Homo sapiens: one gene and its partners. The protein of the gene in region 2 purifies or fractionates together with the protein of the main gene of each other region. This does not show direct contact. Each region holds a gene or a part of one and is shown on either strand. Other genes may lie near its edges. The genes, in order: SPANXN5, PLEKHG1 and TMOD2.

What was found.
Region 1: the proteins of PLEKHG1 (region 2) and SPANXN5 purify together in Homo sapiens (affinity purification with mass spectrometry, with the first as the bait; one large-scale study listed by BioGRID). This does not show direct contact.
Region 3: the proteins of PLEKHG1 (region 2) and TMOD2 purify together in Homo sapiens (affinity purification with mass spectrometry, with the first as the bait; one large-scale study listed by BioGRID). This does not show direct contact.

What each region holds. Positions count from the first base shown.
Region 1 is NC_000023.11:52,795,541-52,798,910, forward strand, and holds SPANXN5 (sperm protein associated with the nucleus on the X chromosome N5), read right to left. Parts: upstream 1,888-3,370; 5' UTR 1,809-1,887; coding exon 1,734-1,808; intron 1,092-1,733; coding exon 948-1,091; 3' UTR 604-947; downstream 1-603.
Region 2 is NC_000006.12:150,833,756-150,837,411, reverse strand, and holds part of PLEKHG1 (pleckstrin homology domain-containing family G member 1), read right to left. Parts: intron 1-3,656.
Region 3 is NC_000015.10:51,761,573-51,765,228, reverse strand, and holds part of TMOD2 (tropomodulin-2), read right to left. Parts: intron 1-3,656. UniProt on the Homo sapiens protein: Blocks the elongation and depolymerization of the actin filaments at the pointed end. The Tmod/TM complex contributes to the formation of the short actin protofilament, which in turn defines the geometry of the membrane skeleton.

The DNA of each region.
Region 1 (3,370 bases), on a different chromosome or scaffold from region 2:
TTTGAAATGAGGCTCATTGGCACTGGAGAAGCTGGTTCATTCACACAGTCAGCTTCACATTCCCTCTTTTGATCAAGATCTTTCTTTGAAAACCTCACAAACCTGAGGTGATCCACCCACCTCAGCCTCCCAAACTGCTGGGATTACAGGCGCAAGCCACTGTGCCCGGCCCTATAACCAATGTTTTTAATTGTATCCCTCTAGAGAGAGTGAGCAGAGGTGTCTGTGTATGTCTGTATTGTGCTTTGTGTTTTACAGAACATTAACTCTTTATAAAGCATATATTTCTAACCTAGGAAAATATCAAATGGAAAAGGGATGGGAATACCTTTGATATGTACATTCAGCAGAACTATGTGCTGCCGGGTACAGTTGCATGAACATATACACATCTCCACTTCCTGTGGGAGGAAATTTTAAGAAGAAAATTTTCTTTAGGAATCAGTGCTCCCCCAGGCCTTATTTACAATGTCTGGCTTACTGTCAACCTGTGAGTCTGTCCACCAACCCTACAGGACCTCATATCCCTCCCTTCTCAAATGCCTACCTCTTCCCTTCCCTTCTCCCCCACCATCAGAAAACAGGCATAGATATATGCAGCCATCAGCTTCTCAAACTTGATTTTATTGTAATCATCACCGTTGGTGGTGAGGATTTGTCCAATTTGGTTTCTCCATGTTTAATTAGTCTTCCTCACCCTCCTCTGACGATCCTTCAGATGAGTCTGGGTCTTCTTCCTCCATCAAAGATCCTTCAGATGAGTCTAGGTCTTCATCCTCTTGTGAAGATCCTTCAGATAACCCTAGGTCTTCATCCTCCTGTGAAGATCCTTCAGGTAATTGTAGGTCTTCATCCTGCTTTGAAGATTCTGCAGATGAGTCTAGGTCTTCGTCCTCCTGTGAGGATCCTTCGTCCTCCTCCTCTTGGACTGGATTGATGGAGTTCTCTCAGGACTGGTCATTCTCGAGTTGATTTGAATGTATTTTCTTAGTCTTCCTGTAGCACAACACTAATACTGTTGAATATTCTGATGTTTTCATCTTTTTCAAACTCGGTTCGAGGACTAAGTCCCTGTTTGGTGTCTCCTGCATCTGTTAAGAAAACAGGGAGAGGCCAGAAAGACATTATTTTGGGTGAATAGGATAGAGACTGGATAGCAAGGGGGGCTTTATGAGAAGGAATGCAGGTTGAGGAAGGGGTTCGATCCAGAGAAGAACAAGGTTGACTCACAGGGTAGGGATCTATGGGGAAGAAGAGGAGCATGGGTAGGGTCATCTGTTAGTCCAAACTGCACCATTTTGTAAGTTCTTTGCTATTTTGCAGACCTTGGTCAAAGTGAAACATCCCATGGGGGTTCAGGCCGTGAGAAACATCCTGCCTAACCACCTGTCCACAAGGCAGACAAAGGCCCAACTAAAGAAACATCCCTATCATATCTTGCTTGGCAAAGTTCTAAGGAACACCACAACGATATTCCACCAGAAAAAGGGCCAAACCACCTGATCATAAGAACATCTTATCAATATCCTGCTGGGCAGCAAGCCATGCTGCCCAGATCCCTCCCACCCATACCTGTAAGTACCCCAGGCTGTAAGCGGTGGTGGGATCTGGCATTAAGCTGGTCCCCCACTTCCACAAGCGTCTGCAGTATTCCTGTGTTGCTGTTTGAGCTGCCCCCTCTCTGTGTGTCTTTCTTTCACCCTCGCCTTCACTTCAAAACCTAACAATCTTACCTCATCATTTTTGCTGTTGGAGTCACAGGGGCTCTTCCTCTTCTCCCCATTGGTGCTTGAAGTGGGCTTTTCCATGATTCTGGTTGGTTGTTGAATGTCTACAGCAGGATCTTGTAGAGTCCAGACTTCCACAGCTATATTGAAGCTTCCCAGTGGCCCAGAGCTCTTGCCCTCCCTATATATACCCTCCTGGTGACAAGGCAAAGCCACACCCTTGAGCTTTGTTTGATCATACAGGCAGTGTCCCAGCCAATGGCAGTCCAAGGGTGGCTTAGACATCACAAAGCACCACTGCTGACCACTCCCTGGGCTTGTGGGGGAGGGGTGACAGGGGTGTAGAGGAAACCAAATGCTGCTGTTGTTTCAGCATCCCCTGAAGACGCATCCCAAACTGATCTGCTGCCGCTCCTCATTTCTCCATGTTTAATGTTCATGGTTCACATGGAAGTGAGAGGTTGATTCTGTCAAGCCCTTCCCCACAGCCATTCCTATTAAGTGATTCATTCTTTTGTCTTCCAGCCCTCACCATGACTTAGTATTTTAGATGTCTCACCTCAAATCCCCCAAGCTAGTGTGGCTACATTTAATTATTGGTGGAGATGTGAATTATCCCATTTCCCTCTTACAGTTCCTTCATATGCACCTTGAAGACCATTTACTCTTGGGCTACTGCCAGGCAAATTTCAACCCATGTTCTTTTACCCAATGTCCATGTAGTTCTTTTAAGTTTCCTATTTCCAATCTGAAACAATGGCCTCAGTCTGTCAAAACTTTAGTGAATTAACATTCTTTACCTTGCATCCTAGTCTTGTTTCAAATCAGGGGTGTATGTTCATAGTAAATGTAGTATCCCAACATGAATTCTACCAGTATGTGGGGTGGGGGAAGGAGTAAATATTCAAGTGCTGGAAGTTGTCCTGAGTATTTACCTGCAGGATACTGCAATCTAAGACTAATATGTGCAAGAATGTGGGCATAGCTAAGCTTTGCACTGGAGATTGTGTCCAGTGACAAAAAAAAATGCATTCAGATTGGAAGGGAGAAGTAAAAGTATCTTTTGTCAAAGACTACATGAGAGTGTATGTAGAAAATCAATCTAAAAAAAATGCTTCTACAATAATTGAGGTTAGCAAGATTGCAGAGTAAGCGATCAACATATAAATCAATTGTATGTTTATCTAGTAGAAGTTATATATTAGAAATTTGCATCCAGTTTTCACCTATAGTCATCATGTCAATATGAATAATGACACATTTTTCACCGGAAAGTATTCCCATTTGTATAATTAATTAAATGGTAATATAAGTTTTAAGGTATCACTATCATTATTGGCATTAAGACGTGAAAGAGTTATACATCATAAGCAGTGAGGCAAAGAAAAAGACATGGAGAGGGAAACAAAATCGGAGAGTAACACATCTGGAAAGCTAAATATTTGCTTCTAAAAGTGACTGTTTTTGGCTGGGCGCAGTGGCTCACGCCTGTAATCCCAGCACTTTGGGAGGCCGAGGCAGGCAGATCACCAGGTCAAGAGATCAAGACCATCCTGGCTAACACGATGAAACCCCGTCTCTACTAAAAATACAAAAAATTAGCCAGGCGTGGTGGCTGGTGCCTATAGTCCCAGTTGCTCGGG
Region 2 (3,656 bases):
CCTTTGTCTTATTATACACTCCTTGTCCTTTGCTTAATCAAATCCTACTCATCTCTCAAGATTCTCCATAAGCCCTATCTTCTCCTTACTTGAATCCTTTTCTGATTTCTCTTCTCTGAAGTCTTACATAGTGTGTACCTAGCTGTTGCCTGTGTGTGCACACACACACACATGCAGACACACACAATTTGTATTGCTGTGTTGCTAATTATTTTATGTAGGTTACTTTATTTTCATTTTATGTTTTTTTGAGACAAAGTCTCACTCTGTTGCCCAGGCTGGAGTGCAGTGGCAGGATCTTGGCTCACTGCAACATCTACCTCCTGGGTTCAAGTGATTCTCCTGCCTCAGCCTTCCTAGTAGCTGGGACTACAGGCACCCACCACCACGCCTGGCTAATTTTTGTATTTATAGTAGAGACAGGGTTTTGCCATGTTAGCCAAGCTGGTCTCGAACTCCTGATCTCAAGTGATCCACCAGCCTTAGCCTCCCTAAGTGCTGGGATTACAGGTGTGAGTCACTGCACCTGGCCATTTTATGTAAGTTACTTTATTAGTCCCTGAGCTTTTCTTTTCTTTTTTTTTTTTTTGAGACAGGGTCTTATTCTGTTGGCCAGGCTAGAGTGGAATGGTACAATCATAACTCACTGCAGCCTCAGACTCCTGGGCTCAAATAATCCTCTTGCCTCAGCCTCCTGAGTACCTGGGACTATAGGCATGAGCCACTGTGCCTGGAAATTTTTAACTTTTAAATTTTTTGTAGAGAGAAAGTCTTGCTATGTTGCCCAGGCTGGTCACAAACTCCTGAGCTCAAGCAATCTTCCTGCTTTGGCCTCTCAAAGTGCTAGGATTACACGTGTGAGCCACCTCGCCTGGCCTCTGAGCTTTTGGTCTGGGAGAACAATGCTGTACATTTTGTTCAACTCCCTATAGAGGACCTAGCATGGTTTAGACAGAAAGTGGTCTCAATAACTAATTCATTACTCAGAATTTTTTTCACTCCCTTCTTTATTTTACTTATTTTTTAATCTTTTTGAGATGGAGTCTCACTCTGTTGCCCAGGCTGGAATGCAGTGGCGCAATCTCGGCTCTCTGCAACTTCCACTTCCCAGGTTCAAGCGATTCTGCTGCCTCAGCCTCCAGAGTAGCTGGGATTACAGGTGCCCGCCACCACGCTTGGCTAATTCTTTGTATTTTTAGTAGAGACGAGATTTCACCATGTTGACCAGGCTGGTCTTGAACTCCTGACCTCAAGTGATCTGCCCGCCTCAGCCTCCCAAAGTGCTGGGATTATAGATGTGAGCCACTGCACCCAGACTCCTTTCATTTTAAGCCTACTTTTAAAAAGGGATGCACTTTCCTGAGACCATACCACTGGGAGTGGAAAGGTGGCCTGGAAATCAGGTCATAAGCAGAAAAAGCAGAAGCAAGAAGACAGCTAAAATGCTTCCTATAGATAACTCATAATGGGAACAGTTTATCTTTGGATGATAGAGTTGACCATTTATCAATTTTGAATAAAAGGTATCTCACTAGTAGGCAATAGAGGTGTGAGTCACTGTGCCTGGCCATACAGGTGTGAGTCACTGCACCTGCTGATCTAAGGGGCTTTTTGTTTCAGCTTGACCTTCTAAGAGAGTCTATAGCTTGTGTGACATCTATGTGAACAAGAGACAAGCTTCCAGAGCTCCAGCTGTAATTAAACAGATTCTATTAGCCAGATGTACAGGGAACAGCCAGCCTGAGATGACACCTCTGGCCTAAAAAGCTTAGTATTAGTCAGCTGAGTTGAGGCTCCCCCATATCCTTAGTTCTAGTATTAACAGTTGTATAGAATATATACATTATGACTACATGACAATCGCAAGAATGTCTCTGGTTTATTGCCTTTTTTGAGATTTGAAAATTGGAGTTCTTATGATCTCAGACAAAAATTTAGAATAATGTTTGCCAAGGGAAATATCAAACAACATTTTAATCCTCCAGACAGAGGATTAAAATAAATGTTTCTGATGTTGCTCGAGATGCAGACAAAAGCATAAAATTGTGCCTTCCCTACTCTACACAAGGAGGAAAATTTCTCAAGCCTGTATGGAGTTTTCTCCCATGTGAAACATCACCAAAAAACCCAGAAACCCAAAGGCCTCCTTGCTCTCAAAGACTATCAGGAGGAAGGTCTGATGGAACAAGATGGCCAGCATGCTATGACAGGCTCTAAGATATGGGAGCAACTGGACCTGGTTGGGTGATTTATAGGCAGAAATCTGACCCAGGGCCTGGAGACCCCGGCTAGAGAGTTCAATAAAGATGCTCGAGAGTTTCGGCAGGTGAATAAGGTGCTCCTCCTTCCGCACAGCACCGAGAGCAAGCTCCTGGCAAAGCGGCAAGGCCCACACGGAGAAGTCTGGAGAATCGGTCCATTCGATTACGACGTCCTGTGCCCAGATAAACAAGAAAGAGAAAAGGAGTCATCATGTCAACTGACGGAAAGCCTAGTGGGCACAGGAAGTGGTCTCGATCACCCAGCTGGACGAGGTGTGGATATAACTCATCAGGTCCTAGGGACGTGCCTCTGCCAGATGGCAGGGAAGACAGCACTCTCAGAAGATGACTCGGGAGAGATTTCCTCCTCCTTGCTGGGGAGAACGTCGACAGGAGCCCACCATGTCAAGAAAGGACCCAGACGCAAAGCTGAGAAAAGATCCTGGGGCATCCCAAGACAACACCAGCAGGCAAAACAAAAAGGAGAGCCAACCAAAAGTGAAAAGAAAACCCCAATGTGAAATCATTTAATACTTAAAAAGGTGGGTAAAAAAGAAGACTACTCGAGGTAGTCGTAGGCCCTAATGATTCAGTATCAAAGGACATGCTTCTGTCAAGATTGGAGCTTTGTATTTTAACAGATGGTCCATATTCAAAACAACCTGGCCCAGGGAATTACTACTTTTTCAGTGGTAGTCTGTGGGCATAACCCATCATCATCAAAAACTTCAGCATTACATTTCCTCTTATGCTGAGGAGCCCCAACCCAGACTTAGTCAGTGCTTGCAATTGCCAATATACAACTGTTTCTAAGGCCATATATATTCCCCTACCCCACCAAAATTGTCCTCCTGCAGCGGGAACTCAGTCACTTTCCCTGTAACAGCAAACCAGCTTAGCAACGCTAGCATCAGAATAGGGACTTGAATTACTCATAGTGCATCATGGCAAGGAGAAAAATACATGCATTCTAGTCTCACATGCATACAAAACCTTCATTTGATTAAAAAGAAGAACTCAGAGTCTGTGAAATCCTTCAGGCATCAATTCCAGCACTTTGTTTCCCTATCTGTTAAGAAATTGTACTGAAGATTAAAACTTTAGACAATTCTTAAATACTCTCAAACTTAAAAAAAAAAGTTCCCTACAGATTCTTGTTATGTAACTTGTGCATTCATTTAAGATTTGGATATGCCCTTCCTATTCTTCAGTTTCCATGGATGTCAATGTCAATCCCAAAGACAGCATTTAATAGTTAGTGGCATCAACCTGTCCCAATGTGCTGATAATGAAGCTAATGATCAGAGCCTGTCCTGATACTAAGCCATCACCCAGCTTTCACTTTTAATTGTAGAATAGACTCCTCTCATTTGATACTAAGGTGGTCCTTGGTTA
Region 3 (3,656 bases), on a different chromosome or scaffold from region 2:
AGGAGTTTGAGACCAGCCTGACCAATATGGTGAAACCCCATCTCTACTAAAAATACAAAAATTAGCTGGGTGTGGTGGCATGTGCCTGTAGTCCCAGCTAGTCGGGAGGCTGAGGCAGGAGAATTGCTTGAACCCGGGAGGCAGAGGTTGCAGTGCTGAGATGGCATCACTGCACTCCAGCCTGGGTGACAGAGTGAGACTCTCTCAAAAAAAAAATTATATTTATCAAAATGCCCCCTCTCCCCAAGATCACAGCTTAGTGAGACTCTCACACAAACAGCAATAATGCCGTAAGTATTAGACATAATGTAAAAAGTAGGTTTGAAAACACATGGGGAAATAATCACTGAGTAAGTGGGGGAAGTTTGAGGGGAAACTGTGAAAAAGAGGCTGTGTTTGAACATTGAAGGAGGAGGTCATAAGGTGGACATGAATGGGCAAGTGTCATTCTAGGAAAAGGGAACAGCACAAAGGGGTACAGGATAAGACAGTAAATGATATGCTGGTAGAGCAGGCGGCATGGCTACAGAGGGGGATTCATGGAGGAAGGGAGAGGAAAGAACTAAAGACGAGGGTGGGACATCTGTGAAGGGCCTTCCTTCTGCGCCTTGCTAAGGGACCTGAACTTTATTCTGTTGGGAATGGCAAGCCACCACAGCTTCTTAAAGTAGGGGAGTGATCTGAGCACGCCAATCTTTTTTTATGAGTTCAAATCATAAGAATGAAGAATGAGTTGGCATGGAACGAGACTGGCTGCAGGTGGGCCTCTTAAGGGCTATTGGAATAGTGTTCCCTTTCCTTTGTGAATTCAACGGCTCACAATGTTCAGGTTTGTGGTTTCTGTGTCGATACCCCTTTCACATGCAATGCAACGCTCTTTTCCATTAGCTCAGCTTCTTATTTATTAATTTAGAGATAGGGTCTCCCTCTGTTGCCCAGGCTGGAATGCAGTGGTACCATCTCGGCTCACTGCAACCTCCAGCTCCTGGGCTCAAGTGATCCTCCCACCTCAACCTCTGGAGTAGCTGGGATTACAAGTGTGCAACACGAAGCCCGGGACTACAGGCATGTGCCACGATGCCTAGCTAATTTTTAATTTTTTTTTGTAGAGATGAGGTCTCCCAGCCCTCCTTTTTTTTTTTTAAATCTTTAATGACTATATTCTAGTAAATAAACAAACAAAAATTCTACTAAAGTCAGAGAAACCAATTGGATCCTATACACTTTGTTCTGGTGCCAGCTACCACTAACTTACTGCATCACACAGGACAAGGATGGCATCTTCCAGGCCCTTATCCATCAAATGAATTGGTTGAAGCACCCTACTTAATGGATTCTAAAATGCATACTTTGCCACATTTAACATTCTGAAATTGAGATGTGTCTTAGAATTCATGGTGTCCTACAATTACTGTTGTCCCAGCAGCAGTAAAAATGTACTTGTCATTGCTTGTATATACCTAAATATCAAAAGCACCAACTTCAAAACTAGCAGAGTGGATGTAAAGGTCTTGGAAGGAAATCCCAGGGACAACTGTGGAATACTCTTTTAAAATTTAGAAAGCAGACAATCGTGGGGAGGTGACAATGCAGGTATGTTTAGCAGCACTCCTGAAGAGAGGCCCAGATTAGGACAGTTCCACATAATTACAGAGTGAGTTTAAGTGCCCAGTTCAATGGCTTTTAGTTTTAGTTTTGTTTTTTTACAGATTTTTTAAATTACCACTCGATGGCACAGAGGAAATTATTATGTGGAAAAGAACCAGATATGGATAAGTAAAATAGTGATCTAAAATGTTGGACTCTGAGTGTGAAGAAGTTTTAAGAATATCAACTAATGAATGCATTTCACTTACATTTCCCCTTTTAATGTATGCACAGGAGAGATATATGATTTTAAAAATCCATGTATATTCATAGCACATTTATTTGTAATTGCCAAAAATTGAAAACAATGTGAATGATAGTAAATGAATAAAAAACAAATTGTGACCAGGTGCAGTGGCTCACGCCTGTAGTCCCAATGTTTTGGGAGGCTGAGGCAGGAGGATTTCTTGAGCCCAGGAATTTGAGACCAGCCTGGGCAACACAGTGAGACCCCGTTTCTACAATTTTTTTTTTTAAAAATTAGCTGGGCATGGTGGCACATGCCTGTAGTCCCAGTTATTCGGGAGGTTGGGGTGGGAGAATTGCTTCAGCCAGGAGGTCGAGGATGCAGTGAGCTATGATTGCACCACTGCACTCCAGCCTGGGCAACAGAATAAGACCCTGTCCCTAAATAAATAAATAAAAATAAACAAATTGTCGTATATCCACATAATGGAATACTTCTCAGCAATAAAAGGGAATGAACTATTGATGTACACAAAAACATGGATGAACCTCAAAATAATTATAATGAGAGAAAGAAGACCAAAAAGAATGTATACTGCAGGATTCCATTTATCTAAAATTTTAGAACACATAAACTAATTTATATGACAGAAAGAAATCACAGTTGCTTAGGCATGGGAGAGAGGTGGGAGGGGCTGATGAGAGGAATGACATAGGGGCATGGGGAACCTTTTGGGGATGTTGCATATGTTTACTACCTTGATTGTGGTGATGGTTTCACACATACATGCATATATCAAAACTTATCAAACTGTACACTTGAAATATGTGCACTTTATTGTATGTCATTTACACTTCAGTAAAAAAGATTTCAAAAAACCTATGTGGAAGTCGAAAACAGCTCTTTCAATAAAGTAAAAATTATTATTATTTTTTGAGACACGGTCTCAGTCTGTTGCCAGGCTTGAGTTCAGTTGTATGTCAGTACAACTCACTGCAGCCTTGACCTCTTGGGCTCAAGCGATTCTCCCACATCAGTCTCCTAAGTAGCTAGGACTACAGGTGTGCACCACCATGCCGGGCTATTTTTTTTTTATTTTTTGAAGATACAGGATCTCACTATGTTGTCCAGGCTGGTCTCCAACTCCAGTCTTCAAACAATCCTCCCAGCCTGGCCTACCACAGTGCTGGAATTACAGGTATGAGCCACTGTGCCCAGCCAAAAATTTGTATTTTTTTTTTTTTTTGAGGCAGAGTCTCACACTCACACCCAGGCTGGAGTGCAGTGGCGCAATCTCGGCTCACTGCAAGCTCCACCTCCCGGGTTCATGCCATTCTCCTGCCTCAGCCTCCTGAGTAGCTGGGACTACAGGTGCCCGCCACCACGCCCGGATAATTTTTTTTGTATTTTTAGTAGAGACAGGGTTTCACAGTGTTAGCCAGGATGGTCTCGATCTCCTGACCTCGTGATCTGCCTGTTTCGGCCTCCCAAAGTGCTGGGATTACAGGCATGAGCCACCGTGCCCGGCCAAAAATTTGTATTTTTAAGAAAACATGTTATATTTTGATTGCCAGCCTTTTTTTCTTAGTGATACATAAAATACTGGAGAGTTTTACAATCAATGGTATCTTAGAGTTTATAAGATTCTATTTGAATTTTTTTTTTTTTTTAAAGACAGGGTCTCATTCTGTTGCCCAGGCTGGCTTGATCATAGCTAACTGCAGCCTCCAATTCCTGGGCTCAAATGATCTTCCTGCTTCAGTCCCTCGAGTAGCTGGGTCTACAGGTGTGTATCACCATGCCCAGCTAATTAAATTTTTTT